2 separate regions of the Homo sapiens genome follow, and region 1 is linked to region 2. Evidence: fine-mapped expression QTL. A gene starts in region 2. The other region holds a variant in brackets. All regions are shown on one strand. Distances are from middle to middle. Region 1 overlaps HPD (4-hydroxyphenylpyruvate dioxygenase). Region 2 holds the start of PSMD9 (proteasome 26S subunit, non-ATPase 9).

Region 1 (15,924 bases), 48 kb before region 2:
GGCAGATCACCTGAGGTCAGGAGTTCGAGCTAGCCTAGCCAACATGGTAAAACCCCATCTCTATTAAAAATACAAAAAAATTAGCCGAGTGTGGTGGTGCACGCCTGTAATCCCAGATACTTGGGAGGCTGAGGTGGGAGAATCGCTTGAACCCAGAAGGTGGAGGTTGCAGGGAGCCGAGATCATGCCACTGCACTCCAGCCTGGGCGACAGAGTGAGACCTCGTCTCAAAATAAAATGATCAAATGCACACAAAAGTCTTGGCTCCGTTGTTCCACTGTGAGGAATTGAGCCTGACAGATACAGTGGGCAACAATATGAAGAAGAGTGTTCTTCGCAGCCTCATTTCTGGTATCAACGAAACGAAGGGAGAGTAAATTGTCCGTTCACAGTGGGCTGCTTTTAGGAATTGTGCATCCAGACAGGTGGACACTCCCGTAAGTGGATTCATGGGAATAGAGGGCTGAGGTCCGGGCTGAGCCAGGAAAGAGAAGGAAGTGTCTGGCCATTAATTCAATCAACCAATATTTATTGAGCACCTTGTATGTGCCAGGTACTCTTCTAGGCTCTGGGGATAGGAATGAAGGAAACATACTGTTCTTGAGGGCGAGCCAGACAAATGTGAAAAGTAAGTGCAATAGTAAGGAGGAATAAAGCTAAGAGAAGGGGGTGTAGCTGAAGGAATATACAATTTTACCTTTATTATTTATTTTAGAGACAAGGTCTAGTTCTGTCACCCAGGCTGGAGTGCAGTGGCATGATCATAGCTCACTGCAGCCTCGATCTGCTGAGCTCAATGATCCCCCCACTTCAACCTCCTAAGCTGATCAGGGCCATAGGCACACTTTACCATACCAGCTAATTTTAAAAATTTCTTTTCTTTTTTTTTTTCTTGAGACAGAGTTTTGCTCTTGTTGCCCAGGCTAGAGTGCAATGGTACAATCTCGGCTCACTGCAACCTCCACCTGCCGAGTTCAAGCAATTCTCCTGCCTCAGCTTCCTGAGTAGGGATTACAGGGATTACTAGGATTACAGGCATGTGCCACCAAGCCCAGCTAATTTTGTATTTTTAGTAGAGATGGGATTTCTCCATGTTAAGCATGCTGGTCTCGAACTCCTGACCTCAGGGGATGTGCCCTCCTCGGCCTCCCAAAGTGCTGGGATTATAGGTGTAAGCCACCGCGCCAGGGCTTTTTCTTTCTTTCTTTTCTTTCTTTCTTTCTTTCTTTCTTTCTTTCTTTCTTTCTTTTTTCTTTTTTTTTCTTTTTTTTTTTTTTTGTTGTTGTTGTTGTTGAGACAGAGTCTTGCTCTGTCACCCAGGCTTGAGTGCAGTGGTGCAATCTTGGCTCACTGCAACTTCTGCCTTCTGGGTTCAAGCCATTCTCCCACCTCAGCCTCCCGGGTAGCTGGGACTACGGGCATGTGCCACCATGCCCGGCTAAGTTTTTTGTATTTTTAGTAGAGATGGAGTTTCACCATGCTGGCCAGGCTGGTCTCCAACTCCTGACCTCAAGTGATCCGCCCGCCTTGGCCTCCCAAAGTGCTGGGATTCTAGACATGAGCCACCGTGCCCGGCCTTTTTTTCTTTCTTTTTTTTTTTTTTTGAGGCAGTCTCTCTCTGTTGCCCAGGCTGGAGTGCAATGGTATGGTCTCGGCTCACTGCAACCTCTGCCTCCCAGGTTCCCAGGTTCAAGGGATTCTCATGCCTCAGCCTCCTGAGTAGCTGGGACTATAGCTGCGCACCACCATACCCAGCTAGTTTTTTTATTATTAGAAGAGACGAAACCCTATCTCTATTTTTTATTTTATTTATTTTATTGAGACAGAGTCTCACTCTGTCGCCCAGGCTGGAGTGCAGTGGCGCAATCTCGGTTACTGCAACCTCCGCCTCCTGGGTTCAGGATATTCTCCTGCCTCAGCCTCCTGAGTAGCTGGGATTACAGGCATGTGCCATCATGCCCGGCTAATGTTTGTATTTTTAGTAGAGACGGGGTTTCACCATGTTGGCCAGGCTGGTCTCAAATGCCTAACCTCAAGTAATCTTCCCGCCTCAGCCTTTCAAAGTGCTGGGATTACAGGTGTGAGCCACCTGTATCCGGCCAATTTTTAAATTTTTATAGAAATAGGGTCTCACTATGTTTCCCAAGCTGGTCTTGAACTCCTGGGCTCAAGCAATCCTCTGGCCTCGGCCTCCCAAAGTGCCAGGATTATAGGTACGAGCCACTGCGCCTGTCTTCATCTTCTCTCTTGAACTTGCTCTCCTGTCATATTTTCTACTTTGGTCAATGACACTTCTGTTCTCTGCCTCCACCCACCGCTGCCTGCCACTGACCACCTAAGCTCAAAGGCCAGGGATCCTGGATTTAAACCTTCTCTTTCCCTCCCTTACCTACCAAATCTGATGCTTCTTCCCTATTCCTCAAATCCATCCACCTCTTCCTCTGCTCCTCAGTCCCAAGAGATAACTCCTTTCTTCATTGCCTCTATTGTATTGTGGGGGCCAAAATGGGAGCCCCTCTCCAGCTTCTCAGGAGGCTGAGGCAGGAGAAAGGATCACTTGAGGCCAGGAGTTTGAGGCCAGCCTGGGAAACATGGAGAAACCCTGTCTCTACTAAAAATACAAAAATTAGCCAGGCGTGGTGGCATATGCCTATGGTCCCAGCTATTAGGGAGGCTGAGGTAGGAGGATCGCTGAAACTGGGGAGATCAAGGCTGCAGTGAACTGTGATCATGCCACTGCTCTCCAGCCTTGGTGACAGAGACCTCAGACAGAGAGAGGGAGGTCCCAGACAGACTTGGGTTCCCTTGTGGGCAAGAGCCCCTCCCCCCAAAATAAGACTATTCATATAGCATTGACTGTGCCAGCCTCTGTTTTAAACGTCTTTGATACTAGCAACAGGGCTAGGAGGAGGGTATTATTATAATTCCCACTTAACATAGGAAACTGAAGCACTGAGAGGTCAAGTAGCTTGCCATAGGTCACACAGCTACCACGTGGCTATCTGAGAGGTGAACTCAGGCAGCCTGGCTCTCTAGTATGTTCTCAGCTAGTGGGTGTCTGCTCTGCATGCTTTATTTATTTATTTATGTATTTATGAGATGGAGTTTCGCTCTTTTTGCCCAGGCTGGAGTGCAGTGGTGCGATCTCACTGCAACCTCTGCCTCCTGGGTTCGAGTGATTCTCCTGCCTCAGCCTCCCGAGTAGCTGGGATTACAGGTGCGCACCACCAGGCCCAGCTAATTTTGTATTTTTAATAGAGATGGGGTTTCACCATGTTGGCCAGGCTGGTCTTGAACTCCCGACCTCAGGTGATCCACCCACCTTGACCTCCCAATATTTATTTTTGAGATGGAGTCTCACTCTGCCACCCAGGCTAGAGTGCAGAGGCGTGATCTCGGCTCACTGCAAGCTCCACTTCCCAGGTTCAAAGGATTCTCCTGCCTCAGCCTCCCGAGTAGCTGGGATTACAGGCACCCTCCTCCATTCCCGGCTAATTTTTGTATTTTTAGTAGAGGCGAGGTTTCACCCTGTTGGGCAGGCTGGTCTCTAACTCCTGACCTCAAGTGATCCACCTGCCTCAGCCTCCCAAAGTGCTGGGATTACAGGCATGAGCTACCGCACCTGGCCATATGTGCCCAACTTTCTAAAATGTTGACTCAAATTTGTTTGAAACCATGCAGGCAAAACGAAGTAGGTCTATGAGCCACATTTGGTCTGTAAGCCACTAGTTTGCATCCTTCTGGGTTATACAATTTCCCTTCTTCACATTAAGTCACAGGAGAATAGAGGGGGAGTATTTTTTTTGCACGGAATCCTTTGGGTTCTCTCTGATCTCTTTATTTCTGAAGTTCGTGATCCCAGAAGCTCTGATTTCTTCTATAATCTGAAAAAAATCCCCAATTCCCACCATTATACCAACTCAGAGTATTTTTTTCTTCTATTGAGCTCTGCTGCCTCCTAGCTCTGAGTTGACTTATCCTCACGGAGGGTTCTCAAGCATTAGAAGCAGAAAGAGGCCAGAGACAGTGGCTCATTCCTATAATTCCAGCACTTTGGAAGGCTGAGGTGGGCGGATCACCTGAGACCAGGAATTCGAGACTGGCCAACATAGTGAGATCCCATCTCCATGAAAAATAAAAACAAAATTAGCTGGGCGTGGTGGCACATGCCTATAGTCCCAGCTACTTGGGAGGCTGAGGTAGGAGGATCACCTGAGCTCAGAAGGTGGAGGTTGCAGTAAGCCAAGAGCACACCACTGCACTCCAGCCTGAGCAATGGAGTGAGACTCTGTCTAAAAAAAAAAAAAAAAGAGAGAAAAAGAAAAAAAAAAGAGGCCAAATTTGCCCACCACCAACTCTTACCTGGTTTTGAAGAAAGAATCTCCTTCCTAGGGTTTTAGGACCCAGCTGCCTCATTCTTTTGCAAGGATCACTCACTCTTCTATGAGTATGAACAAGCCCCTTTCCAAAAGAAGTCCTCACTGCGGGCAAGGCTGGGGCAGTGCAGCTGCGTGGGTGGTCATGGGCACTGCCCTGCTGAGGGCAGGGACTGGGATACCAGGCCCCTCCTACCTGCTTTATCTCTGAGACCAGGAACCAAGGGACCATATCCTACAGTTGATGAGCAGGGATGCTGCCCCTAGAGTCCCTTGTCTAACACTCTCCCCTCTCCTGTGTTCAGAGGTTTGGGCTCTGGGTAGCAAAACTGAAGACAGCTCATCTTTAGAGATCATCGGCCGGGCGCGGTGGCTCACGCCTGTAATCCCAGCACTTTGGGAGGCCGAGACCATCCTGGCTAACAAGGTGAAACTCCGTCTCTGCTAAAAATACAAAAAATTAGCCGGGCGTGGTGGCGGGCGCCTGTAGTCCCAGCTACTCGGGAGGCTGAGGCAGGAGAATGGCGTGAACCCGGGAGGCGGAGCTTGCAGTGAGCCGAGATCGCACCACTGCACTCCAGCCTGGGGGACAGAGCGAAACTCCGTCTCAACAACAACAAAAAGAGATCATCAAGCCGGCAGACAAGATGCTGCCAAACTCTGACCCCACCTCAGGGCCTTTCTCCGTTCGCTCTTCCTGGAATCCTTTTCCCGAGCATGGTCCCATGGCTGGCTCCCAAATGTCACCTTCTCGGAGAGGTCTTCCGTTATCAAAATTAGCTCCCCTGCGATCTTCGCTTCCACATATTCTCATCAACTGCCTTTTTTTTTTTTGAGACAGGGTCTCACTCTTGCCCAGGCTGGAGTGCAGTGTCAGGATCAGGGCTCGCTGCAGCTTAGACCTCTGTCCATCAATCGATCCTCCCACCTCAGCCTCCTGAGTAGCTGGGACCACAGGTGTGCGCCACTACGCCAGGCTAATTTTTATTTGTTATTTGTGTAGACGCAGGGGGGTCGGGGTCTTGCTATGTTACCGGGCTGGGCTCGAACTCCTGGCCTCAAGCGATCCTCCCACCTCTGCCTCCCAAAGCGCTGAAATTACAGGTGTGAGCCACCACGCCCGGCTCATCGCTTGCTTTATTGTCTGAATCGCGTTTATCTCTCTACAAAAGCAGTGTCATCCGTCTTTCCCTCCAGAGCAAGTCCCCTTCCTTCCCTGGTTCCAGAATTCCCCTCTCCGCGTGGTCCCGCTGGCAAAGCGCTGGCACCCGCAGCTCCTCGGTCCCGCGGCGCTGGCGGCCGCCCTGGCCTCCCCCTGGCTGCCATAAGGCACTACTGCCTTATGCGCAACACAAACACAGACACAGTATTGGACCGGGGCACGCTTTAATCGGGAGGGCTGGAGCAGAGGGCGGCCCCGCCGAGGGGCGTGGTCAGTGTGGGCGGAGCCTTGGGGGCCGAGTCCGCTGGTGGGCGGGACCCAAGGGGAGCAGCCAGTAGGGAAGTTGGGCGAGTTCCAGAATCAGGGGGCGTGGCTGTGTGGCTGTGGCCTCCGTGGGGTGGGCGGGGCTTACATGCCGGGCACCACCCCATTGGTCTCCATGTTGGTGAGGTTACCCCGCAGGTTCTGCTCCTCCTCGAAAGCCTTGAACAGTGAGTTGAAGTTGCCGGCTCCAAAACCCTGTGGCGGGAAAGAGAGGAGATGAGCCAAGGACCCAGAAAACCGAGTGTGCTAGCTGCCTGTCCCCTCGGGCCTGCCGGGGACAAGCAGTACCTGGTGGTTGTGGCGCTGGATGACTTCCAGGAAGAGCGTGGGCCGGTCCTGCACCGGTTTGGTGAAGATCTGCAGGAGGTAGCCTTTCTCGTCGTAGTCCACCAGGATTTTCAGCTCCTAGGCGGGAGACAGGGGGCTCTGCTAGGGGAGGCTGGCACGGTGAGATCCTTGGAAAGTCCACAGGGGCTCCTGCACCCCAAAAGTCTGGAAATGACCTCTTTTTCTGGCAGTTCAGCCACCTCCAAATATATCCCCAAACTGTCCTATTACTATCCCCCTACTACAGTTCCTAAGGCACCATTCAAGACTGCTGCCCGCTTCTAATCTTGTATCCTTACAATCCATCCTCCCCGCAGACATTATCAGGACACTTTCTTTTTCTTTTTTGAGACGGAGCCTTGCGCTGTTACCCAGGCTGGAGTGCGGTGGCGCAATCTTGGCTCACTGAAACCTCCGCCTTCCGGGTTCAAGCGATTCTCCTGTCTCAGCCTCCCGAGTAGCTGGGACTACAGGCGCAGGCTACCATGCCCGGCTAATTTTTGTATTTTTAGTAAGACGGGGTTTCACGATATTGGTCAGGCTGGTCTCGAACTCCTGACCTCAGGTGATCCACCCACCTCGACCTCCCAAAGTGTTGGGATTACAGGCGTGAGCCACCATGACCTGCTGCGGGATCTTTTAAAAGTCGGATCATGTCATTCCCCTGTTTAAAATCCTCCAGTGGAAATCGGAACCCTCATGTACTGCTGGTGGGACTGTAAAATGGTGCAACCACTTTGGAAAACAGTCTGGCAGCTTCTCAAAAAGTTAAACATATAGTGTTGCTTCCTTAAAATACGGATTAAAAAAAAAAAAGGGGGTGGCCAGGCATGGTGGCTCACTTTGGGAGGCCGAGGCAGGTGGATCACCTGAGCTCAGTTCGAGACCAGCCTGGCCAACATGGGGAAACCCAGTCACTACAAAAAAAAATACAAAAATTAGGCTGGGCAAGGTGGCTCACGCCTGTAATCCCAGCACTCTGGGAGGCTGAGGTGAGTGAATCACCCGAGGTCAGGAGTTCGAGACCAGCCTGGCCAACATGGTGAAACCCCATCTCTACTAAAAATAAAAATAAAAATAAATTGGCTGGGCATGGTGGCACACGCCTGTTATCCCAGCTACTCAGGAGGCAGAGGCAGGAGAATCGCTTGAACCCGGGAAGTGGAGGTTGCAGTGAGCCAAGATCGGCCACTGCTCTCCAGCCTGGGCAACAGAGCAAGACTCTGTCTCAAAAAAAAAAAAAAAAAAATTAGCTGGGCGTGGTGGCGGGCGCCTATAATCCCAGCTACTGGGGAGGCTGAGGCAGGAGAATTGCTTGAACCCAGGAGGCTGGAGGTTGCAATGGGCCAAGATCGCACCACTGCACCCCAGCCTGGGAAACAAAGCAAGACTCCATCTCTAAACAAACAAAAGGGAACATGGAATTACCATGTGACCTAGCTACTCCTAGATATATTCCAAAGTGCATTGAAAACACGTCCACACAGAGCCTTGTACATAGATGTTCACAGTAGCATTACGTATAACACCCCAAAAGTGGAAACAACCCAAATATCTATCAACGAGGAATAGATAAACAATGTGTGTCTATCTATACAATGGGATATTTTTCAGCCACAAAAAGGAACGAAGCACTGACACACACCCCACGCAGATGAACCTTGAGCACATGCTATGGGAAAGAAGCTGCTCACAATAGGCCTATTTTGTGATTCCTTTTTTTTTTTTTCCGAGATGGAGTTTCACTCTGTCGCCCAGGCTGGAGTGCAATGGCGCGATCTCGGCTCACTGCAACCTCCCCTTCCCTGGGTTCAAGCAATTCTCCGGCCTCAGGCTCCCCAGTAGCTGGGATTACAGGCATCTGCTATCACACCCAGCTAATTTTTGTATTTTTAGTAGAGACAGGGTTTCACCATGTTGGCCAGGCTGGTCTTGAACTCCTGACCTCATGATCCGCCCACCTCAGCCTCCCAAAGTGCTGGGATTACAGGCATGAGCCACCGTGCCTGGACTTTGTGATTCCTTTTGATGAAATGTCCAGAATAGGCAAATCTATAGAGACTGAAGGTAGATTAATGGTGCCTAGGGCTGGGGTGGGAGGGGGGAAGGGAACAGAGGGGGTTGGGAGGTGCTGGCTAAGAGGCTCAAGGTTTCTTTTTGGGGTGACAAAAATGTTCTAAAATTGATTTTTTGCCCAGGCTGGAATGCAGTAGCCTGATCATGGCTCACTGCAGCTTTGACCTCCTGGCCTCAAGTGATCCTCTCACCTCAGCCTCCTGAGTAGCTGGGACTACAGGCACGAACCACCATGCCCAGCTAATTTTTTAAAACTGTTTTTTTTGTAGATACAGGGTCGCCCTGTGTTTCTCAGGCTGGTCTTAAACTCCTGGCCTCAAGCAATCCTCTCACTTCAACCTCCCAAAATGCTGGGATTATAGGTGTGAGCCACTGTGTCTGGCCTAACTGTTTTTGTTTTTCTTTTAGACAGGGTATCACCCAGGCTGGAGTGCAGTGGCCTGATGATGGCTCACTGTAGCCTCTACCTCCTGGGTTGAAGTGATTCTCCCACTTCAGCCTCCCCAGTAGCTGGGACCACAGACACAGATCACCACGCACAGCTAATTTTTTTTTTTCTTTTTGTAGAGATGGGGGTTTCGCCATATTGACCAGGCTGGTCTCAAACTCCTGACCTCAAGTGATCCACCTGCCTTGGCCTCCCAAAGTGCTGGGATTACAGGCATGAACCACCATACCTAGTCCTAAAATGGATCTTTTTTTTTTTTTTTTTTTTTTTTGAGACAGAGTCTCACTGTGTCGCCCAGGCTGGAATGTAGTAGCGCAATCTCGGCTCACTGCAACCTCCGCCTCCCGGGTTCAAGTGATTCTCCTGCCTCAGCCTCCTGAGTAGCTGGGATTACAGGCATGTGTCACCACGCCTGGCTAATTTTTGTATTTTTAGTAGAGGCAGGGTTTCACCATGTTGGTCAGGCTGGTCTCGAACTCCTGACCTCATGATCCGCCCGCCTCGGCCTCCCAAAGTACTGAGATTACAAGCATGAACCACCACACCCAGTCCTAAAATGGATTTTGATGATAGTTGCACAACATAGCAAATAGCTAGAAATCATAGAATTGTACACCTTAAAAAAATGACATGTTATGTGACATATGTCAATAACACTGCTAAAACCAAACCAAAAAACCCTCCAGTGGTTTCTGGTCACAAAAGAACAAAATCCAGATTCCTGAATAATAGCTCACAAGAGGAACTGGCTCTTGCTTACCTGTCTGACCTAGGTCATCGCTCAAAAACAGCCTCCCATCCACTCTAGCCTATTCTTTCTGTTCCTCAGACGCTCAGGGCATGCTCCTACCTCGGCCCTTGCTGATCCCTCTGCCAGGAATGCCTTTCTTCCCGCTGTTCACATGGCCAGCTCCCGCTCATGATCTAGACTTCACTCAGATGTCACCTCCTCAGAGAGGCCCTCCCTGACCAGTCTCTGTAAAGCAGCCCCAGGCTGCCTGTTTGAACTTCCTGCACTGACTATCTCTGACCGTGCTTTTATTGTTTATTTGTTTGTCATCTGTCTCCTCCTCCCACATAGACCCTAGAATAAATGTCCTTTGCCAGCAGGGACTTGGTCTGGGCTCCCCTCCGGGCTGAGACAATATTTCTGAAAAGATGCAATGCAGAGCTCATACTCCCCCCACAAGGCTGCGGATCCTGCCTGGGCCTCACCTCCAGGGCATCAATGTTCTCCTTCACCTTGATCTTGGCCGTCTTCAGCTTCTCCCGCAGTTGTTTGTAGTACGTGGAGGGAACAGATAAGAACTCCAGGCCTCTCTCTCTCAAGTGGCGAATCTGTTTCAGAGCAAAGCTGAGGTCAGCCTTCGGCCTCCAAGTTCAACTCCCCTAGCCAGGTGGAGGTGCTGGGTCATCAGGATACAGGGTCCCTATCCTAGCTCCCCTCAACTGCCAGGATGCTGTGTGGCCTCTTCCCCTTTCTTCTCTGTCATGGGCCCCGTTAGAACAACAACTGCTAGATTTATAGAACACTCACCATGTGCCTGCCTTGAGCACTTTCTTTTTTTCTTTTTTTTTGAGATGGAGTCTCTGTTGCCCAGGCTGGAGTGCAGTGGCACGATCTTAGCTCACTGCAACCTCTGCCTCCCGGTTCAAGCGATTCTCCTGCTTCAGCCTCCTGAGTAGCTGGGATTACAGGTGACTACCATCACACTCAGCTATGTATTTTTAGTAGAGATGGGGTTTCACCATGTTAGCCAGGTTGGTCTCGAACTCCTGACCTCAGGCGATCCACCTACCTCGGCCTCCCAAAGTGCTGGGATTACAGGCGTGAGCCACTGAGCCCGGCCTGAGCACTTTCTACGTATTCCCTCATTATGTCCATGCAGCAATCTTTTGAGGCAGCTGAAGGACTATTCTCCCATTTCATAGCTGGGGAAACTGAGGCATGAAACGATTAAGGATCTATTAGGCCGAGTGTGGTGGCTCACGCCTGTAAGCCCAGCACTTTTGGAGGCTGAGGCGGGCAGATCACTTGAAGTCAGGAGTTGGAGACCAGCCTGACCAACATGGCAAAATCCTGTCTCTATTAAAAATACAAAAAAAAGGCCGGGC[G/A]AGGTGGCTCACGCCTGTAATCCCAGCACATTGGGAGGCCAAGATGGGTGATCACGAGGTTAGGAGATCAAGACCATCCTGGCTAACACAGTGAAACCCCTACTAAAAATACAAAAAAAAAATTAGCTGGGCGTGGTGGTGGGAGCGTGTAGTCCCAGCTACTTGGGAGGCTGAGGCAGGAGAATGGCGTAAACCCGGGAGGCAGAGCTTGCAGTGAGCCGAGATCGCGTCACTGCAATCTAGCCTGAGCAACAGAGCGAGACTCTGTCTCAAAATAAAATAAAATAAATAAAAAATAAAAAATAAAAATAAAATACAAAAAAAGTTATCCAGGCGTGGTGTCATGCACCTGTAATCCCAGCTACTTGGGAGGCTGAGGCAGGAGAATCGCTTGAACCCAGGAGGTGGAGGTTGCAGTGAGCCAAAATCGCACCACTGCACTCCAGCCTAGAAGACAGAGCAAGACTGCATCTCAAAAAAGAAGGATATATATATATATACACACACATATATATATTTGAGAGACAGGGTCTTTGTTCTGTCACCCAGGCTGCAGTGCAGTGGCATGATCTTAGCTCACTGCAGCCTCAACCTCCCCAGGCTCAGCTGATCCTCCTACTTCAGACTTCTGGGTAACTAGAACCACAGGTGTGCACCACCACACCTGGCTAATTTTTTGATTTTTTTGTAAAGATGAGGTCTTATGGCCGGGCGCAGTGGCTCACACCTGTAATCCCAGCACTTTGGGAGGCCAAGGTGGGCAGATCACAAGATCAGGAGATCGAGACCATCCTGGCTAACACAGTGAAACCCCGTCTCTACTAAAAATACAAAAAAAAACATTAGCTGGGCGTGGTGGCGGGTGCCTGTAGTCCCAGCTACTTGGGAGGCTGAGGCAGGAGAATGGCGTGAACCCAGGAGGCGGAGCTTGCAGTGAGCCGAGATCGCGCCACTGCACTCCAGCCTGGGCGACAGAGCCAGGCTCCGTCTCAAAAAAAAAAAAAAAAAAAAGGATGAGGTCTTACTATGTTGCCCACGTTGGTCTTGAACTTCTGAGCTCAAGCAGTCCTCCTGCCTCGGCCTCCCACAGTGTCTGACCCCCCAATTTAAATGTGCAATGCCATTCACCCTTGCTGTCCCAATTCCCTGCTTTACTTTCTTCCTGGGTGCTCTCTACCATCTAGCATTTATATTTTACTTATTTTGTTTATTGCTCCACAAGGGCAGAAACTGTTATAGGCATGAGCCACCATGCCCAACCTTAATTTCCTCATTTTAAAAAAAATTTCTTTTTTGAGGTTGCGGGGAGATAGGGCCTCACTCTCTGTCACCTAGGCTGGAGAAAAGTGGCTCAATCATAGCTAACTGCAGCCTTGAAATCCTTGGCTAAATGGATCCTCCTGCTTCAGCCTCCCAAGTAGCTAGGACTACAGGCATGAACCACCAAGCCTGGTTAATTTTGTTTACTTTTTGCAGAGACAGGGTCCCACTGTTTTCCAGGCTGATCTCTAACTTATGGGCTCAAACAATCCTTCTGCTTTGGCCTCCCGTGTAGTTGGGACTACAGGCATAAGCCACTGTGCCCAGTCCTAATTTCCTTTATTAATTACTATTATTTTTTTCTAAAGCAGAATTTCACTCTTGTCGCCCAGGCTGTGGTACAGTGGTGCGACCTTGGCTCACTGCAACCTCTACCTCCTGAGTTCAAGCACTTCTCTTGCCTCAGCCTCCTGAGAAGCTGGGATTACAGGTGCCCGCAACCACGCCCAGATAATTTTTGTATTTTTAGTAGAGATGGGGTTTCACCATGTTGGCCAGGCTGGTCTCAAACTCCTGACCTCAGGTGATCCCCCTGCCTTGGCCACCCAAAGTGCTGGGATTACAGGTGTGAGCCACTGTGCCCGGCCCTAATTTCCTGATTTTTAAGGTAAGGCAACTAAAGTCCAGAGACAGCACTGAATCTCCCAGAGACACAGAGCAAGCCACTGGCAGAACCGGGACCATCACCCAGGCTTCCTGATACCCTGGCGCCTGCTACCTCCAAAGCCCAGGGGTTCTGTGGAGACTGAACTCTCTGGGGGTGGGTGTGGCTGTGCCTGCCCATGAGTTGCAAGAAGCAGTGAGGGAGTCCTGTCAGTCTCCCAGCCCAGAGAAACGGGCCCAGGACTGCCGCCACCCGCCCTCTCAATTTTGCAGAGATCGTCCCTGGCTCTGAATGAGAGAGGAATTCGGACAGGGAAGGGGGTTCTAACCGCTGTGATGATGTCTTCGGTCTTGAGAGCGATGTGCTGGACCCCAGCGCCCCCGTTATAGTCCACATATTCCTGGGGGAGGGAAACAAGGAGACCACTGTCATTTGCCCCATCACCCACATCCCTGACCCTACAAGAGCCCCCAGACCTCTTCCCTGCTCCCCTCTCCCCCAGCCAGGGGCGGCCTCACCTGGATCTGGGACTTCTTCTTGCCAGGCGCTGGCTCATTGATGGGCATCTTGATGGACTCTTCATAGTTGGCCACCACAATGGATCGCAGAGAGCTATATTCCGTGTGCACCTGCGTGTCATCCACGGACCAGAAGCGGTGGAACTGCAGGTTTTTCAGGTACCTGTAGGGTGGGCGGTGGAACACATATGCTCTGAGCGCCTCCAGGGACGGCCTCCATCACCCATTTCCACCTTCCAGAATCTGTCCCTGAGCAGGCTCCAGAAAGGAGATGCCACTGCCATCATACCCATCAGAGATTTAGATCTTTTTGTTGTTGTTGTTGCTCGAGACAGAGTCTCACTCTTGCCCAGGCTGGAGTGCAGTGGTGCAGTCTTGGCTCACTGCAGCCTCAATCTCCAGGCTCAATTGCTCCTCCCACCTCAGCTTCCCAAGTAGCTGGGACTACAGGCATGTGCTACCACACCTGGATAATTTTGGGGTATTTTTATTTTTTGTTTTTTGAGACGGAGTTTCGCTCTTTTCGCCCAGGCTGGAATGCAGTGACGCAATCTCGGCTCGCTGCAGCTGCCACTTCCTGGGTCCAGGCGATTCTCCTGCCTCAGCCTCCCAAGTAGCTGGGATTACAGGCATGCACCACCATGCCCAACTAATTTTTTGTATTTAGTAGAGACAGTGTTTCACTGTGTTGGTCAGGCTGGTCTCGAACTCCTAACCTCAGGTGATCCACCCGCCTCGGCCTCCCAAAGTGCTGGGATTACAGGCATGAGCCACTGTGCCCGGCCGTATTTTTTGTAGAGATGGGGTCTCACTATGTTGCCCAGGCTGTCTTGAACTCCTGGGTTCAAGCCATCCACCTGCCTGGGCCTCCAAAGTACTAAGATTCCAAATATGGGCCACCACGCCCAGCCTAGATTTGTACCTTTATGATGACATTTTTCCTTCAGGTGGAAGTGTCTTGGAACGAAATACATACAGGACGGCAAGGCTCCCACAGATGGAAGTAAAGTGCTTTGAGAAAAAGGCCCTTGCTTGGAATTTGGACAGGGGGCTCTCTGGGTGGTGGCAACCTTCCTCCAAGCCTCCCTGGACTGTGATGTCCCCAGGGTTCCTCAGAAGGAGGGCCTGTGGGTCGCTTTGGGCCTCAAGTCCACTGGTCTCCATGTTGACAGTTTTACAGTGAATAAATGCATCAGTGGCCTCAGGCTAACTCCCAACATCTTGTGCTGTATTTTCCACTTTTATTTTATTTTACTTTATTATTATTATTATTATTTTGAGACAAAGTCTCTCTCTCTCACCCAGGCTGGAGTGCAGTGGCGTAATCTCAGCTCACTGCAACCTCCGCCTTCCTGGTTCAAGCGATTCTCCTGTCTCAGCTTCCCAAGTAGCTGGGATTACAGGCACACACTGCCACACCCAGCTAATTTTTGTATTTTTAGTAGAGACCGGGGTTCGCCATGTTGGTCAGGCTGGTCTTGAACTCCTGACCTCAGGTGATCCACCCGCCTCCGCCTCCCAAAGTGCTGGGATTACAGGCGTGAGCAAGTGCGCCCGGTCTATTTTATTTTATTTGTTTATTGGAGACAAAATCTTGCTCTGTTTCCCAGGCTGGAGTCTCACTCTGTCGCCCAACCTCCACCTCCCGGGTTCAAGCGATTCTCCTGCCTCAGCCTCTTGAGTAACTGGAATTACAGGGGCCCAACACCTCGCCCACTGAGTTTTTATATTTTTAGTAGAGACGGGGTTTCTCCATATTGGTCAGGCTGGTGTTGAACCCCTGACCTCAAGTGATCCTCCCACCTCGGCTTCCCAGAATGCTGGGATTACGGGTGTGAGCCACTGCACCCAGTCGTATTTTCCATGTTAGTGCAAGGACCAGGGAGTGGGCCAGTCCACCGTGAGGACCCGTCATCTTCACGCAGAGGGAGAGGGCCAAGGTCTCACCATTCGGAGGCGGACACCATCTCCTGATCAGGCTGGTTTCCCACAATGTGGTCGATCATCTCCAGACTGCATTTGGGCCTGGGAAGGGAAGAAGATGGGGGTGAGAAGGTGGCTACCCCCCAGATTGCTCCCTTCTCCATGACCCCTCAATAATAATAATAGCTCACACTTCTGTTTTTGGAGTTCTATTTTTTTGTAGAGATGGAGTCTCTACAAAAAGAGAGACTCTTTTTTTTGCCCAGGTTGGTCTAAAACTCTGGGGCTCAAGTGAACCTCCTGCTTCAGACTCCCAAAGTGCTGGGATTATAGGTATGAGCCACTGCGCCTGGACTCACACTTATGTAGCATTTACTAATGGGCCGGACATTTTATTTTGTCAACTCATTTACTATTACAGTCCCCATTTTACAGATGAAGAAACTGAGGCCTAGAGAGATGAAGCGACTTGCCCAGGGTGAAATGGCTGTGAAGTAACAGAGCTGGGATTTGAACCCGGGGAAGTTTGGTTGCAGAGGCCATGGTCTCAGCCTCTGTGCCACCTCTTCAAGCACCCCTGAGGACTTCCAGGAATTCCCTAGCCGGCTCCATTCTGCCCCAACACACATGCGCAGTGGACATGGAGGAAGGGGCATTACTTTTCACAGTCCCTCAGGGCTTTCCACCCACCTCTGCCCTGAGGGACACTCACAGTTTAGGAAGTAGGGGGT
Region 2 (15,924 bases):
GGTGGATATTCCTTTAGCCCCTCCAAATCTCTTCCCTCCCTGCCCTTCTCTGTGCCCCAAGCCTTATCACCTTCAGCCAACCTGAGACCCTGGCAGGAAAGGAGAGGAGAGACAAGTGGGGGTATCTCTTCCTTGGCTTCCTCCCTGCCAGACGTTGTTTTAGCAGCTGTTTTAGCAGCAGCTATGTCCCTGTACTGAAGGCCACACTCCTGTTGGGTGACTACAACTCTCTCTAGGTTTCCAAACCCTCCCTTCTCTTGCCCCTTTAGGCTTAAGGGGTGGGGTAAGAGACCCCATGCTCACCAGCCCCAGGTGGCTTCATTATCCTTATCTGCTCCCATGACTTTGTTTTTTTGTTTGTTTGTTTGTTTTGTTTTGAGATGGAGTCTTGCTCTGTCGCCAGTCTGGAGTGCAGTGGTGCGATCTTGGCTCGTTGCAAACTCCGCCTCCCGGGTTCAAGCGATTCTCCTGCCTCAGCCTCCCAACTAGCTGGGACTATAGGCATGTGCCACCATGCTCAGCTAATTTTTTGTATTTTTAATAGAGACAGGGTTTCACCATGTTGGCCAGGATGGTCTTGATCTCCTGACCTCATGATCCGCCCACCTCAGCCTCCCAAACTATTGGGATTACAGGCGTGAGCCACCGCGCCCAACCTAATTTTCGTATTTTCATTAGAGATGGGGTTTCACCATGTTCGCCAGGCTGGTCTTGAACTCCTGACCTCAGGTGATCCTCCCGCCTAGGCCTCTCAAAGTGCTGGGATTACAGGCATGAGCCACTGTGCTGGCCTGATTAAGCAACTAATTTACAATTCTTAAAAACTTTTAGGGGGCCAACTCATGAGCGAGCCTGCCACCTTTATGGCTGTCAGAGTCCAGACCCTTGTTTTATAGATTCAGGAAACGAGGGGAGGATTTGTCGTTTGTAGGATTCCTGGGCCAGAGTGAGGTGAAACATGGAAAGTGTGGTGGTCCTCAAGTCAGGCAGTATGAATTCTGACCAACCAGGTCTCGCCAGGGATCTCTAGTTCCCTGGCTCTATTTCCCATGTGTTTGTCTCTTGGCCTACCTCTCGTTCTGAAATGAAGATGAGCAAGATGTGAAAGCTTGAGAGAGGCAACTGAAGTTCTCCTAGATCTTGGCAGCTTTCTAAAACAAAGGTTTTGCTGGGCTGTCTGTGGCCACTGCAGGGAAGATGAAACAGAACAACTGGAAAGGGGAAAGACAGCTCTCTCAGACTGTTCCCTTGCAATCCTCAAACAGTCCAACATTTGAAGATAAACAAGCCTCAGTCCACATTCTCTAAGAATCTCCAGTGCATGGGACAGACAGGTAAACATGCATTTACAATACCAAGTGAAAAGTGCAGAAAACAGCCCAGCTGTGGGGTGGGACACATAATGATTTCCAGGGAGGTAGTATTTCTTTTTCTTTTTGTTTTTGAGAGGGATCTTTTTCTTTTTGTTTTTGAGAGGGAGTCTTGCTCTGTTGCCCAGGCTGGAGTACAGTGGTGTAATCTCAGCTCACTGCAACCTCTGCCTCCCAGCTTCTCCTGCCTCAGCCTCCTGAGTAGCTGGGATTACAGGCACCTGCCACCAAACCCAACTAATCTATTTTAGTAGAGATGGGGTTTCACCATGTTGGCCAGGCTGGTCTTGAACTACCGACCTCAAGTGAGCCACCCGCCTCGGCCTCCCAAAGTGCTGGGATTACAGGTGTGAGCCACCTCACCCAGCCTTGAGCTGGATCTTGAAGGAGAGGTTCAAGTCAGCCTGGCCTGAGATGGTGTTCCAGGGTGGGAAGAGCAGGTGCTAAGACCCAGTGCTAAGAGAGACTGAGCAAAAAACGTGCCAGAAACTGTTAGAAGTTCAGCATGGCTGGAGCATAAGTTGTGTGTGTGTGTGTGTGTGTGTGTGTGTGTGTGTGTGTGTGTGTGTGTGTGTGTGGTGGGGTACAGGGATGGGAGGTGGTCTAAAGGCAAGCAGAGATCAGGAGTCTTAAAGGCCAAGAGAAGGGCACTGAAGCCATTAAGCAGTAGCGTGCCAATGTCACTCTTGGGAAGGTTGTTCTGGCTGCTTTGGAGACTGGGTTAAAGTGCGCAACCTGAGACAGTTCAAAGACTGCCCAATCAGGAGGAAGAGGTGGCGGGGTAGGAGTAGAGGTGGAGGAGATGGGTGGATTTGGGAGCTATGAAGGCAGTCACAGGATAGAGGTTTATTATAATGACAGCAATATTGACAAGCTCATAATGTAGTAACCTAACAACAGCTCTCTTTTCAGACCGCATGGGTAAGAATCTTCTCCTCACCCTTTTTATTTGGAAAAATTTCAAACCTCAGAAGAACTGCAAGATAGTTCCCCCACACAACCAACTTTTCCTTTTCCTTCTTTCTTTTTTTTTTTTTTTTGATAGAAACTGGGTCTTGCCACGTTGCTCAGGCTGGTCTCAAATTCCTAGGATCAGGGGATCCTCCCACTTCTGCCTCCCAAAGTGCTAGGATTATAGCCATGAGCTGCCTACAAAAGTTTCCTTGAACATGCATATACTCTTCATGTGGATTTGCTAATTGTTACATTTTGCCTCTTTCTCCCCTTGTATCATTTTCTTTGAACCACTTGCAAGTTAGTAGCTGAAACCATGACGCTACACATCTAAATATTTGAGCATTTATCTCCTTACCATAAAAAGAGTTTCTTTCACATAATTGCAACATCATTATCTGACTGAGGAAACTTAACACTGATATACTATAATTTAATATAAAGTTCATATTTAGATTTCATCAATTGGCCCAGTAAGTCTTTTAAAGCCGCTGTTTCTCATTAATAATTCAAGTAAGGATCATGTATTGCATTTAGTCATCGTTTCTCTTTTCCTCTCTTTTTTTTTTTTTTTTTGAGACGGAGTTTCGCTCTGTCGCCCAGGCTGGAGTGCAGTGGCATGATCGCCGCTCACTGCAACCTCTGCCTCAAGCAATTCCCCGGCCTCAGCCTCCCAAGTAGCTGGGATTACAGGTGTGTGCCGCTGTGCCCGGCTGATTTTTGTATTTTTACTAGAGATGGGGTTTTACTATGTTGGCCAGGCTGGTCTCAAACCCCTGACCTTATGTGATCCACCCACTTCGGCCACCCAAAATGCCGGGATTACGGGCGTGAACCATCATGCCTGGTCCTCCGCTAATTAATTTTTTTTTTTGTAGAGACGTAAGTCTTGCTATATTGCCCAGGCTGGTCTTAAACTCCTGGACTCAAGGGATCCTCCTGCCTTGATCTCCCAGAGATATAGGACTACAGACATGAGCCACTGCACCTGTATCTCTCTCTCTCTCTCTTTTGACAATGTTAGAAATGTTAGTTTATTTTTCTACCTTTTCTCTTTTTTTCTTCTTTCTGTTTAAAGTTTGTTTTAAAATTTTATCTTGAAGTGGTTTTAAACTCACAGAAAAGTTCCAAAAATATTATAAAGAACATTTATATGTTTCACCAATTATTTACATTTTGTAAATGTAAATAATTTACATTTACAAATAATTTACAGAGTCACCAATTATTAACATTTTGCCGTATTTACTTTATCTCTCTCTTGTCTACAAATATATATCTCTTTCTTTTTCTTGAGACGGAGTCTCACTATATGGTCCAGGCTGGAGTGCAGTGGCACGATCTCGGCTCACTACAACCTCCACCTCCCAGGTTCAAGCGATTCTCTCCTGCCTCAGTCTCCCGAGTAGCTGGGATTACAGGTGCCTGCCACCACGCCCAGCTGATTTTTGTATTTTTAGTAGAGACGGGGTTTCACCATGTTGGTCAGGCTAATCTCAAACTCCTGACCTCAAGTGATCCACCCCCCTCAGCCTCCCAAAGTGCTGAGATTACAGGCGTGAGCCACCATGCCCGGCCTTACATATATATCTGTATTTTTTTTTTTTTTAGATGAAGTCTTGCTCTGTCGCCAGGCTGTAGTGCAGTAGCACCATCTCGGCTCATTGTAACCTCTGCCTCCCGGATTCAAGTGATCCTCCTGACTCAATCTCCCGAGTAGCTGTGACTACAGGCATGAGTCACCACGTCCAGCTAATTTTTGTATTTTTGGTGGAGACAGAGTTTCACCATGTTGGCCAGGATGGTCTCCATCTCTTGACCTTGTGATCCGCCCACCTCGGTGTCCCAAAGTGCTGGGATTACAGGTGTGAGCCACCACGCCCGGCCTATATCTGTATTCTTTTCTGAACCATTTGAAAGTAAATTGCCTCTCTTAACCCTAAATACTACAGGGTACTTTTTCTAAGGGCACTGTCTTACAAAACCACAGTGAAAGTATCAAAATCAGGAAATTTTCAGATATCAAGGGTGGGAGGATATTACAATTTTTTTAAAAATCAGGAAATTTGGCCAGGTGCGGTGGCTCACGCCTGTAATCCCAGCACATTGGGAGGCTAAGGCGGGTGGATTGCCTGAGGTCAGGAGTTCTAGACCAGTCTGGCCAACATGGTGAAACCTTGTCTCTACTAAAAATACAAAAAAATTAGCCGAGCATGGTGGCATACGCCTGTAATCCCAGCTACTCGGGAGGCAGGGGAATTGCTTGAACCAGGGAGGTGGACGTTGCAGTGAGCCGAGATCTCGCCACTGCACTCCAGCCTGGGCAACAGAGCCACCACGCCCGGATAATTTTTGTATTTTTAGTAGGGACAAGGTTTCAGCATGTTGGCCAGGCTGGTCTTGAACTCCTGACCTCAGGTGATCCAGCCGCCTCGGTCTCCCAAAATGCTGAGATAACAGGCGTAAGCCACCGCACCTGGCCACATATTGCATTTAGTTTTTTTTTTTTTTTTTGAGATGGGGTCTCACTCTCTCGCCCGGGCTGGAGTGCAGTGGCACGATCTCTGCTCACTGCAAGCTCTGTCTCCCAGGTTCATGCCATTCTCCTGCCTCAGCCTCCTGAGTAGCTGGGACTACAGGCACGTGCCACCATGCCCGGCTAAATTTTTGTATTTTTAGTAGAGATGGAGTTTCACCGTGTTAGCCAGGATGGTCTCGATCTCCTAACCTCATGATCCACCTGGCTTGGCCTCCCAAAGTGCTGGGATTACAGGCGTGAGCCACCGCGCCTGGCCTAGTTTTTTTTTTTTTTTTTTTTTTGAGACGGAGTCTTGCTCTGCCGCTCAGGCAGTGAGCCACCTGCCCTGGCCTCCCAAAATGCTAGGATTATAGCCATAAGCAGCTTACAAAACAGTTTTCTTGAACATGCTTATACTCTTCACGTGGATTTGCTAATTGTTACATTTTGCCTCTTTCTCCCCTTGTATCACTTTCTTCGGACCACTTGCAAGTTAGTAGCAGAAATCATGACACTACACATCTAAATAATTGAGCATTTATCTCGTTCCAATAAAGATAAAAGTGATTCTCTCATATAATTGCAACACCATTATCTGACTGAGGAAATTTAACACTGATATACTATAATTTAATATAAAGTTCATATTTAGATTTCACCAGTTGGCCCAATAAGTCTTGTAAAGCTGCTGTTTCTCATTAAATAATTCAAGTAAGGATCATGTATTGCATTTAGTCATTATTTCTCTCTTCCTCCCTTTTTAACTTTATTATTTATTTATTTATTTGAGACAGAGTCTCACTCGGTCACTCAGGCTGGAGTGCAGTGACATGATCTCAGCTCATTGCAACCTCTGCCTCCCCGGTTCAAGCGATTCTCCTGCGTCAGCCTCCCAGGTAGCTGGGATTACAAGTGTGTGGCACTGTGCCTTGGTAACTTTTGTATTTTTAGTAGAGACGGTGTTTCACCATGTTGGCCAGGCTGGTCTTGAACTCCTGACCTCAAGTGATCCACCCACCTCAGCCTCCCAAAGTGCTGGGATTACAGGTGTGAATCACCACACCTGGTCCTCTGCTAATTAATTATTATTTTTTTTTTTTTGTAGAGATGGAGGTCTTGCTATGTTGCCCAGGCTAGTCTCAAACTCCTGGACCTAAGGGATCCTCCTGCCTTGATCTCCCAGCATAATGGGACTACAGGTATGAGCCACTGCACCTGTATTTCTCTCTCTCTCTCTCTCGATAATGTTAGAAATGTTAGTTTATTTTTGAGGGGTGCGGTAGCTCACTCCTGTAATCCCAGCACTTTGAAAGGCCGAGCTGGGCTGGATCACTTGAGGCCAGGGGTTCGAGACCTCAGCCTCCTGAGTACCTGGGATTACAGGTGTGTGCCACCACACCCGGCTAATATTTTATATTTTTGGTAGAGACAGGGTTTCACCATGTTGGCGAGGCTAGTCTCAAACTCCTGACCTCAAATGATCTGCTTGCCACAGCCTCCCAAAGTGCTGGGATTATAGGCATGAGCCACCACACCTGGCCCATTGCATTTAGTTGATGCACATCTTTAGTGTTCTTAAATCTAGGCAATTGCATATCCGCCTCCTTTCTCTGTCCCCCACCCCTTATTCCCCATGTGTATTTCACAACATTGACTTTTTTTGAAGTTTTCAGGCCAGTTGTTTTGAAGTATGTCCCTTCTTTTGGATATGTCTGTTTTCCAATGATTAGATTCAGGGCAAACATGTTTGAATACTACACAGATGACCGCTGAGCCCTTTTCAAGACAAAATATTAGAGGCACATGGTCAGATATCAAAGTTGATTGTTTAGGTAAGCTGGGTTGGAATTTTGGCCTCACATTTTGCTAGTTGGGTAAATTGGTTATTGAGACGGTTTTCTCAGCTGTCAAATTGGGATGTAATAATCTAGCTTCATGAGGTTGTTGAATTAATATATGTAAGGCATTTAGAACAGCGTCTGGCACATTATAAGTATCAATAAATAAACACTGTTACCGTTATTATTATCACTACGATTTTTAGAGGCCTTAACAGGAACATCCAGCACCTTCAACAGTATATGGCTCATAGGAATCATTCCATGAATATTTGTTAGCAGAAGGACAGCTCTATGAGATAGATTGCTATCAATTACTGCCCCATTTTACAGATGAGGAAACTGAGGCCCAGAGAAGCCAAGTAGTGACCTAGGGTCACACAGATTGCCGTTAAGTGGCAAGATACGGGGTGTGTACTCAGGCATATCGGATCTGTAAAGTGAGGGATAAGGAACCTTAATGTATTTTGTAAATCCTCCAGGGCTGTGTGGATGTGAAGAACTGAATTGGAGCGCCACGCAGCGGTTCTCTGGCGTACAGTATCCATCCATACAGTAGGCGCTCAATAAATGTCTGCTGCACGAATGAGAAAATGAGTCAGCTGGGGCGAGATCATCCCCTAGCGTTGGTGTGCAATTGCGTGGGGATCCATTGCTTCCGACGCTACTCCTGCCGGGTCACCACAGGCGCACGTGTTCCGGCAGGGCGCGGCTTCCGGTGACCCAGCTCCGCCCTAAGCCCCATCCCAAGCCCCGCCCCTTGACTGTTCTCGCGTTCGCGGACGGCTGTGGTGTTTTGGCGCATGGGCGGAGCCGTAGTTACGGTCGACTGGGGCGTCGTCCCTAGCCCGGGAGCCGGGTCTCTGGAGTCGCGGCCCGGGGTTCACGATGTCCGACGAGGAAGCGAGGCAGAGCGGAGGCTCCTCGCAGGCCGGCGTCGTGACTGTCAGCGACGTCCAGGAGCTGATGCGGCGCAAGGAGGAGATAGAAGCGCAGATCAAGGCCAACTATGACGTGCTGGAAAGCGTGAGTGTGGGTTCGGGGCGCCCCAAGTCGCCTAACCCGGCCCGGAGTCCCTGGGGTACTGGGATGCCAGGGCGGCCTCAGTTTGGGCGCTCCGCAACGGATCTCCCTGGGAGGCCCAAGGCGCCGCAAGTGCGGCCTCTGTCGGCACAAGAAGGCAGGCAAAGAACTTTAGCAACTGAAGAGTTAGCCATATTGATATCCAGCAAGAGTTTGTGGAGCCCTGCTGTGTGCTAGGCGCTGGTTTAAGTGCTGTGCATTGTTGAGTTAATTTAATCTTTGCAACAACCCTTTGAGGTGGATGCTGTTACTCTTTCCATTTTAGGGAGGGGGAAACAGGTGTTACTTGGTGATTAAACAGCTGTCATGTGCCTCGCTGACTGCCTTATCTTAATTTTGTACTTTTTGTAAAGACAGAGTCTCACTGTGTTGCCCAGGTTGGTATCGAACTCATGGCCTCAAGCGATCCTTCCACCTCGGCCTTTCAAAGTGCTGGGATTACAGGCGTGAGCTACTGCACCCGGCATTTGCTGATTGTATCGTGAATTCTTAAACTTCAGTGTGTATATGAATTACCTGGGGATCTTATTAAAATGCAGATTTTGTTTGAGGCAAGGGAGCAGATTCTGCATTTGTAGCAAACTCCCAGCAATGCTGATGCTAGTGGTCTAAGGACCGAACTTTGAGTTACAAATAAGGCTCATCATCCTTATTGCATAAGGAGGAAACTGAGGCCCAGAGTGGGGCAAACGCCTATCTAAGGTCATGTAGTTCGGAAGTGGCAGTGGTGGGTCTGGCTCAAAAGCTGATGCAGGTTTTCTTATGCCATCTAGTGTAAAATCACAGATCAGTTTGCAGAGGAAGATGCAATTAATTATGCCCAAGTAGGGTGGGATGGAATGCATTTTAGGTGATGTAAGATGAAGTTTCTTTTTTTTTTGTCTGAGACGGAGTCTTGCTTTGTCACCCAGGCTGGAGTGCAGTGGCTCAATCTCGGCTCACTGCAGCCTCTGCCTCCTGGGTTCAAGTGATTCTCCTGCCTCAGCCTCCCGAGTAGTAGGGATTACAGGCGAGCGCCAGTACGCCAGGCTAATTTTTTATTTTAAGTAAAAGCAGGGTTTCACCATGTTGGTCAGGCCGGTGTTGGATTCCTGACCTCAGGTGATCCGCCCACCTTGGCCTCCCCAAGTGCTGGGATTACAGGCGTGAGCCACCGCGTCCGGCCATAAGATGAAGTTTCATACGGAGGGCCAGAGAACCATTTTACTGGGTGCTGACTATATGCTCAAAGTGGGATTCAGACTTCAGGTCTGTTACATTCAGAACCTGTGCTTTCAAGCAAATTACCAGCAATTTCTCAAACTTTAGTTTACTTTCTACCACATGCAGTATACTATATGCATATACCACTTGTGTTATTCCTTTGATATTTTTATTTAAATAGATCTACTTTTAATCTTATATAAATGTATTATTATTGTTATTATTATTATTGAGACAGGGTCTCGCTCTGTTGCCCAGGCTGGAGTTCAGTGGCACCATCTTGGTTCACTGCAGCCTCAATCTCCTGGTGTCAAGCAATCCTCCCACCTCAGCCTCCCAAGTAGCTGAGACTGCAGGTACGTGCCACCACGCCCAGCTAATTTTTGTATTTTTTGTAGCTATGGGGTCTCACTATGTTGCTTGCTCAGACTGGTCTGAAACTCCTGGGCTCAAGCAGTCCTCCTGCCTCTGCCTCCCAAAGTGTTGGGGTTACAGGCATGAGCCACAGTGCCTTGCCCATAAATGTATTTTAAAAGGAAATTTCAAAACTCCGCTGCATATGGAAAATGATAATCTCTTCTCTTAAATATAAGGTCAGATGCTTTGCATGTTGATACGGCATGTTGGTTGCTTCTGGCTAGCTGCTGTTGCTTGCTGAAAGCTTTCAGCCTGAAACCGTGCTCTATATTTGTTTTTAAAAAGTGGGTTTGGGCCGGGCCTGGTGGCTCACGCCTGTAATCCCAGCACTTTGGGAGGCCAAGGTGGGTGGATCACCTGAGGCCAGGATGGTCTCGATCTCCTGACCTCGTGATCCGCCCGCCTCGGCCTCCCAAAGTGCTGGGATTACAGGCTTGAGCCACCGCGCCAGGCCTACAAAAAATTTTTTTAAAAATTAGTTGGGCGTGGTGGTGCATGCCTGTAGTCCTAGCTACTTGGGAGGCTGAGGCAGGAGGATTGCTTGAACCCTGAATGTTGAGGCTGCAGGGAGCTATAATTGCACCACTGCACTCTCTTGTGGGTGACAGAGTGAGATGCTGTCTCTTTAAAAAAAAAAAAAAAAAAAAGGCCGGGTGCGGTGGCTCATGCCTCTAATCCCAGCACTTTGGGAGGCCGAGGCGGGCGGATCACGAGGTCAGGAGATCGAGACCATCCTGGCTAACACAGTGAAACCCCGTCTCTACTAAAAATACAAAAAATTAGCTGGACGTGGTGGCCAGCGCCTGTAGTCCCAGCTACTCTGGAGGCTGAGGCAGGAGAATGGCCTGAACCCGGGATGTGGAGCTTGCAGTGAGCCAAGATTGCGCCACTGCACTTCAGCCTGGGTGACAGAGCGAGACTCCGTCTCAAGAAAAAAGAAAAAAAAAAAAAAGACTGGGCATGGTGGCTCACGTCTGTAATCCCAGCACTTTGGAAGGCCGAGGTGTGTGGATCGCTTGAGGTCAGGAGTCCGAGACCAGCCTGGCCAACATGGTGAAACCCCGTCTCAACGAAAAATACAAAAATTAGCCAGGTGTGGTGGTACACATCTATAATCCCAGCTACCCGGGAGGCTGATGCAAGAGAATCACTTGAACCTGGGAGGCGGAGGTTGCAGTGAACCAAGACTGCACCACGACACTCCAGCCTGGGTGACAGAGATTCCATCTCAAAAAAAAAAAAAAAAAAAAAAAGAAGTGGACAGCTAAAACTATAAATCTCGTATAATAAAGCATAGGAGTAAATCTTCATGACCTTGGATTAGGCAAAGCCTTTTTAGATATGGCACCAAAAACACAAGCTACAAAAGAAAAAATGATAAGTTGGACTTCAACTTTAAAACTGTGTTTCAAAGGGCATAGTAAAATGAAAAGATAAGCTCCAGAATGGGAGAAAATATTTGCATATCATTTCTCTGATAAGAGGATAGTATCTAGACTATAATAAGAGCTCTTACAACTCAATAATAAAAAGACAGCCAATTAGAAGACAGGGAAAGGATCTGAATAAACATTTCTCCAAAGAAAATATGGTCAATACAAATGGTCAATGGCCAGGCGTGGTGGCTCATGCCTGTAATCCCAGGACTTTGGGAGTCTGAGGCAGGAGGATCACTTGAGGCCAGGGGTTTGAGACTAGCCTGGGCAACACAGTAAGAGCCTATCTTTACAAAAAATTCAAAATTAAAGGCCGGGCATGGTGGCTCATGCCTGTAATCCCAGCACTTTGGGAGGCCGAGGCTGGCAGATCACGAGGTCAGGAGATCGAGACCATCCTGGTTAACACGGTGAAACCCCGTCTCTACTAAAAATACAAAAAAATTAGCCGGGTGTGGTGGCAGACGCCTGTAGTCCCAGCTACTCGGGAGGCTGAGGCAGGAGAAGGGCCTGAACCCAGGAGGCGGAGCTTGCAGTGAGCCAAGATCTCGCCACTGTACTCTAGCCTGGGCAACAGAGCGAGACTCTGTCTTTAAAAAAAAAAAATTAAAAATTAAAAATTAGCCAGGTGTGATGACATGTGCCTGTGGTCCCAGCTACTTAGGAGGCTGAGACAGATCGCTTGAACCCAGGAGTTTAAGGCGGCAGTGAGCTATGAACACACCACTGCACCCGATCCTGGGCAACAGAAGATCTTGTCTCAAACCAATACAAACACAAAAGCCATTACCTTTTACACTTTACATGGGTCAGTTATATGGTATCTGAATTATATCTCAATAAAACTGTTATAAAAACAGAGGGTACTAGAGATAGCAAGTAACTGGGGTGTTGCAGAGACCAGCACCAAATGGACACTTTTGCCTTGACAATTGCAGGATTGTAGAGAATTGGGAGAGGAATATGTATTTTTGATTCAGGGTTATTTAATGCCGTGTGTGTGAGCTGCTAGTGTTATGGATCCCATCCTTTGAGAAGCATTATCCAATGTGATATTGATTCTCAAAGGCTGGTCAACCCTTAACCACTGTGGGAAGGCAGGAGCAGATACAGGTTTTTAGCCCCTGGCGCATTTCTGCAGTGTCACGGCGAGTCCTGTGTTAGGGGAGTGTGGAGAACTATCTCCCTGCGCAGTGGACAGTAGGTTTGGGTGTAACCCGGAGGCTTCCAGAGAGAAAGGGAGCAAAATGAATGGAATCCCTCTTCTCAGTGCCTGTGTACACTGGCAGCTTGTCCCTGGACTGACTAATCCTTACAGCCACTATTTATGACTTCTGCGCGTAGTCGTTTTCTGAGGCCACCTTAACACCACAGAGTTGGTGACTTAAAACAGGAATTTACTTTGTCCCAGCTCTGGAGGCCAGAAGTCTGAAATCAAGGTGTCAGCAGGGTTGGCTCCTTCTGCAGGCTCTGAGAGAGAAGCTCCCAAGCCTTTCTCCTGGCCTCTGGTGACTGCTGGCGGTCCTTGGCCTACAGCTGTGTCACTTGAACCTCTGCCTGCATCTTCATGTGGCCTTCCTCCTGTGTCTGTCCCACACCTACCTCTGCCTTTCTTTTATGAGGACACCAGCCACCAGATGAGCTTATCTCGAGATCCTTAACATAATTACATCTACAAAGACTCTTTTTCAAATAAAGTCATATTTACAGGTTCTGGGGGTTAGCTCGTGGTTATCTGTTTTTGGGGGCCGCTCTTCAACCCACTATGCTGTGTATGCGCGTGGCATGTGCTAAGTACTCTGCAGGTCAGCTCGTTAGTTCTTGCAGCAGGTAGGGAGGGAGGCGAGTGCTCCTATTCCCATTTTATAATTGAGGAAGCTGAGGCTTAGAGAGGAGAAGGTCTCAGCTAAGGATGCCCAGCTTGTACATGGCAGAGTTGAGATTCAAATTAAAGTCTAACCAATTGCAAAGCCCCTCCCCTGAACCATGTGACTGGTTTCACTGCTTTTGTGTACTCTCCTCTGACTCATGTTAAAAAAAAAAAAAGTGTTGTTTTGAATAAAGAATACATTCCCATAGGCAAAATTCAAAACCTACAGAGGGGTATAAAATGGACTGTCTCTCTCCCTGCCCTGTCACCTAGCCACCCAGTTCTTCTCCCCGGAGGCAGCTGGTGCTATCAGTTTCCTTCTTCAGATCTTTTTATTTTCAGAAGAATCAAAGCCCTGCCACAGCTGGGTGCTGTCTGGGCTTTTCACTCCCCTCTAGCTTCCAGGGCCAGCAGCCAGGTGTCAGCCACCTGTGGGAAGGAGGGTGTGAAGGAGTGGAGGAAGAGGCTGGCCTTGGGGATGATGCTCAAAGGAGTCTTTGGTTTTATCGGCACTGTTTTAACTTCAAAAAAGAATGGATTCATGCATTACTTGCGTCGTTAAAAATAAAAAATGAAAAACACAGTGCCCACCCCAGGGTAGTTGTGAGGGCATGAGTAGAGCCCCTGGTGTAAGTGATCAGTATGTGGCAGTTTTCATTACTGTCACCTTTATTATGACTTCAGAGGAGAAGGGTCTGGGGAAAGACATCCTGGGGACATTACACCCATGAGCACCTTTTAACCACGTTTCTTTCCTCCAGCAAAAAGGCATTGGGATGAACGAGCCGCTGGTGGACTGTGAGGGCTACCCCCGGTCAGACGTGGACCTGTACCAAGTCCGCACCGCCAGGCACAACATCATATGTGAGTGGCCCTCTTAGAAGACTTTCCCCACCTTGTGGTGGGAAGGTGTTAAAGGCATACAAATAAAACCAACTATCTGTATTATCTACTGCCTTCTCTTCTGCCTTGATGGGATTGTCTTGTCCCCATCCAAGGACTGAGAACCAAGGGAATGGGCTAGACTCTAAGGTTCTATATTTCTGGTTTCATTTTCTCTCTCTCTCTCTCTCTCTTTTTTTTTTGAGTCAGGGTCTTGCTCTGTCTTCCAGGCTGGAGTGCAGTGGTGCTAACATGACTCACTGCAGTCTCAACCCCCCAGGCTCCAAGTGCTCCTTCTGCCTCAGCCTCCCAAGTAGCTGGGACTATAGGCATGTGTCGCTGTGCCTGGCTAATTTTTTTTAGTAGAGACGAGTCTCACTAAGTGGCCCAGGTGAGTCTTGAACTCCTGGACTCAAGTGGTCCTCCTGCCTTGGCCTTCCAAGGTGCTGATTGTTTTTAATTAAAGAGCTAGCAGAGAGTACAGATTGGATAGTATATTTGTTTTCTGTTTCTGCCATAACAAATGACGTGATTTGTTTTTAATTAAAGAGCTAGCAGAGAGTACAGATTGGATAGTATATTTGTTTCTGTTTCTGCCATAACAAATGACCACAGACTTAGTAGCTGGAGATAAGAAGTCCAGATGGGTCTCACTGGACTAAAATCAAGGTGTTGGCAGGGCTGGCTCCTTCTGGAGGATCTAGGGGAGAACCTGTTCCTGGTCTTTTCTGGTTTCCAAAGGCTGCCCACCGTCCTTGGCTCATGGCTTCGTCCATCTACACAGCCAGCAGTCGCATTTCCCTCCCTCTGATTCTGTCATAACATCTCTTTCTCTCACTCTCCTGCCTCCCTCTTTCACCTATAAAGACCTCTGTGATGACACCAGGCCCACCTGGATAATCCAGGATCATGTCCGAATCTTAAGGTCCTTAATCACATCTGCAGAGCCTCTTTTGCCATGTAAGGTGGCATATTCCCAGCTTCTAGGGGCTAGGATGTGGATGTGTTGGGGGCCATTATCCACTCAGCCATAGGTAGGCAACCGTCTCCACCACAGAGTCCTATTAGCATTTATCCTCCACATTTTTCACTTACTAACTCCTCTTTAATCTGTTTGAATCTTGATTCCATCTGCATCACATCTTATTTATTTATTTATTTTTTGAGACGGAGTCTCGCTCTGTCACCCAGGTTGGAGTGCAGTGGCACGATCTTGGCTCACTGCAACTTCCACCTCCCGAGTGACAGAGCAAGAGACCGTCTCAAAAAAAAAAAAAAAATCTGTTTGAGCAATTCCTTATTGGTCTTTTTTTGAAAAATCTGTTCTCGGCCGGGTGCGGTGGCTCATGCCTGTAATCCCAGCACTTTGGGAAGCCAAGGCGGGCAGATCACCTGAGGTCAGGAGTTTGAGTCTAGCCTGACCAACATGGCAAAATCCTGTCTGTACTAAAAATAGAAAAATTAACTGGATGTGGTGGCACATGCCTGTAATTCCAGCTACTTGGGAGGCTGAGACAGGAGAATCACTTGAACCCAGGAGGCAGAGGTTGCAAAGAGCCGAGATTACACCACTGCACTCCACCCTGGGCGACAGAGCAAACAAAACTCTGTCTCAAAAAAAAGAAAGAAAATCTATTCTCAAAACAGCCCTTTTTAAAGAACAGTTATAGATTTACATAAAAATTGGAAAATAATGGCTGGGTGCGGTGGCTCACGCCTGTAATCCCAGCACACTGGGAGGCCGAGGTGGGCAGATCACCTGAGGTCGGGAGTTCGAGACCAGCCTGACCAACATGGAGAAACCCTGTCTCTACTAAAAATACAAAATTAGCTGGGCATGGTGGCACGAACCTGTAATCCCAGCTACTCAGGAGGTTGAGGCAGGAGAATCACTTGAACCCAGGAGGCGGAGGTTGCCGTGAGCCGAGATTGTGCCATTGCACTCCAGCCTGGGCAACAAGAGTGAAACTCTGTCTCAAAAAAAAAAAAAAAAAGAAAAGAAAAAAAAATTGGAAAATAATGCATAGGTCCTTTGGCTTCTGTATGTAATCTCCCGTGTTGTTAACAGCATATATACACATACATGTGTATATATCTACACATACATGTAAATATATACACACATACATGTGTATGTAAAATATACACATGCGTGTATATATGCAAAATACACATATGAGTGAATGACTCAGGCTGGGTGTAACCAAGATTTCACTTTTCTCTGAAATCCTCTAGAAGGAAAAATGCTGCATAAGCTGGGCACAGAGGCTCATGCCTGTAATCCCAGCACTTTGGGAGGCTGAGGCCTCCCAAATATATACACATGTGTATACACACAGGTTCAAGTGATTCT

What was found.
Region 1: its variant is fine-mapped to the expression of PSMD9 in whole blood (TOPMed, PIP above 0.99).

What each region holds. Positions count from the first base shown.
Region 1 is chr12:121,833,782-121,849,705 of GRCh38, forward strand. It overlaps HPD (4-hydroxyphenylpyruvate dioxygenase), which reads right to left. Exons shown (of 14, transcript NM_002150.3): 8 at 15,906-15,924; 9 at 15,218-15,295; 10 at 13,271-13,433; 11 at 13,081-13,152; 12 at 9,929-10,051; 13 at 6,151-6,267; 14 at 5,746-6,057. The coding sequence ends at 5,947. Among named protein-coding and RNA genes, the nearest start is that of TIALD, 15 kb to the right of the region's middle. RefSeq lists enhancers at 5,067-5,737, 6,409-7,078 and a silencer at 5,700-5,899. The variant G/A (reference allele first, on the strand shown) is at 10,829.
Region 2 is chr12:121,881,289-121,897,212 of GRCh38, forward strand. It overlaps PSMD9 (proteasome 26S subunit, non-ATPase 9), which reads left to right and starts at 7,502. Exons shown (of 6, transcript NM_002813.7): 1 at 7,502-7,706; 2 at 13,451-13,553. The coding sequence starts at 7,569. It also overlaps a transcript of HPD not described here. RefSeq lists enhancers at 7,159-7,772, 7,406-7,805, 7,773-8,386.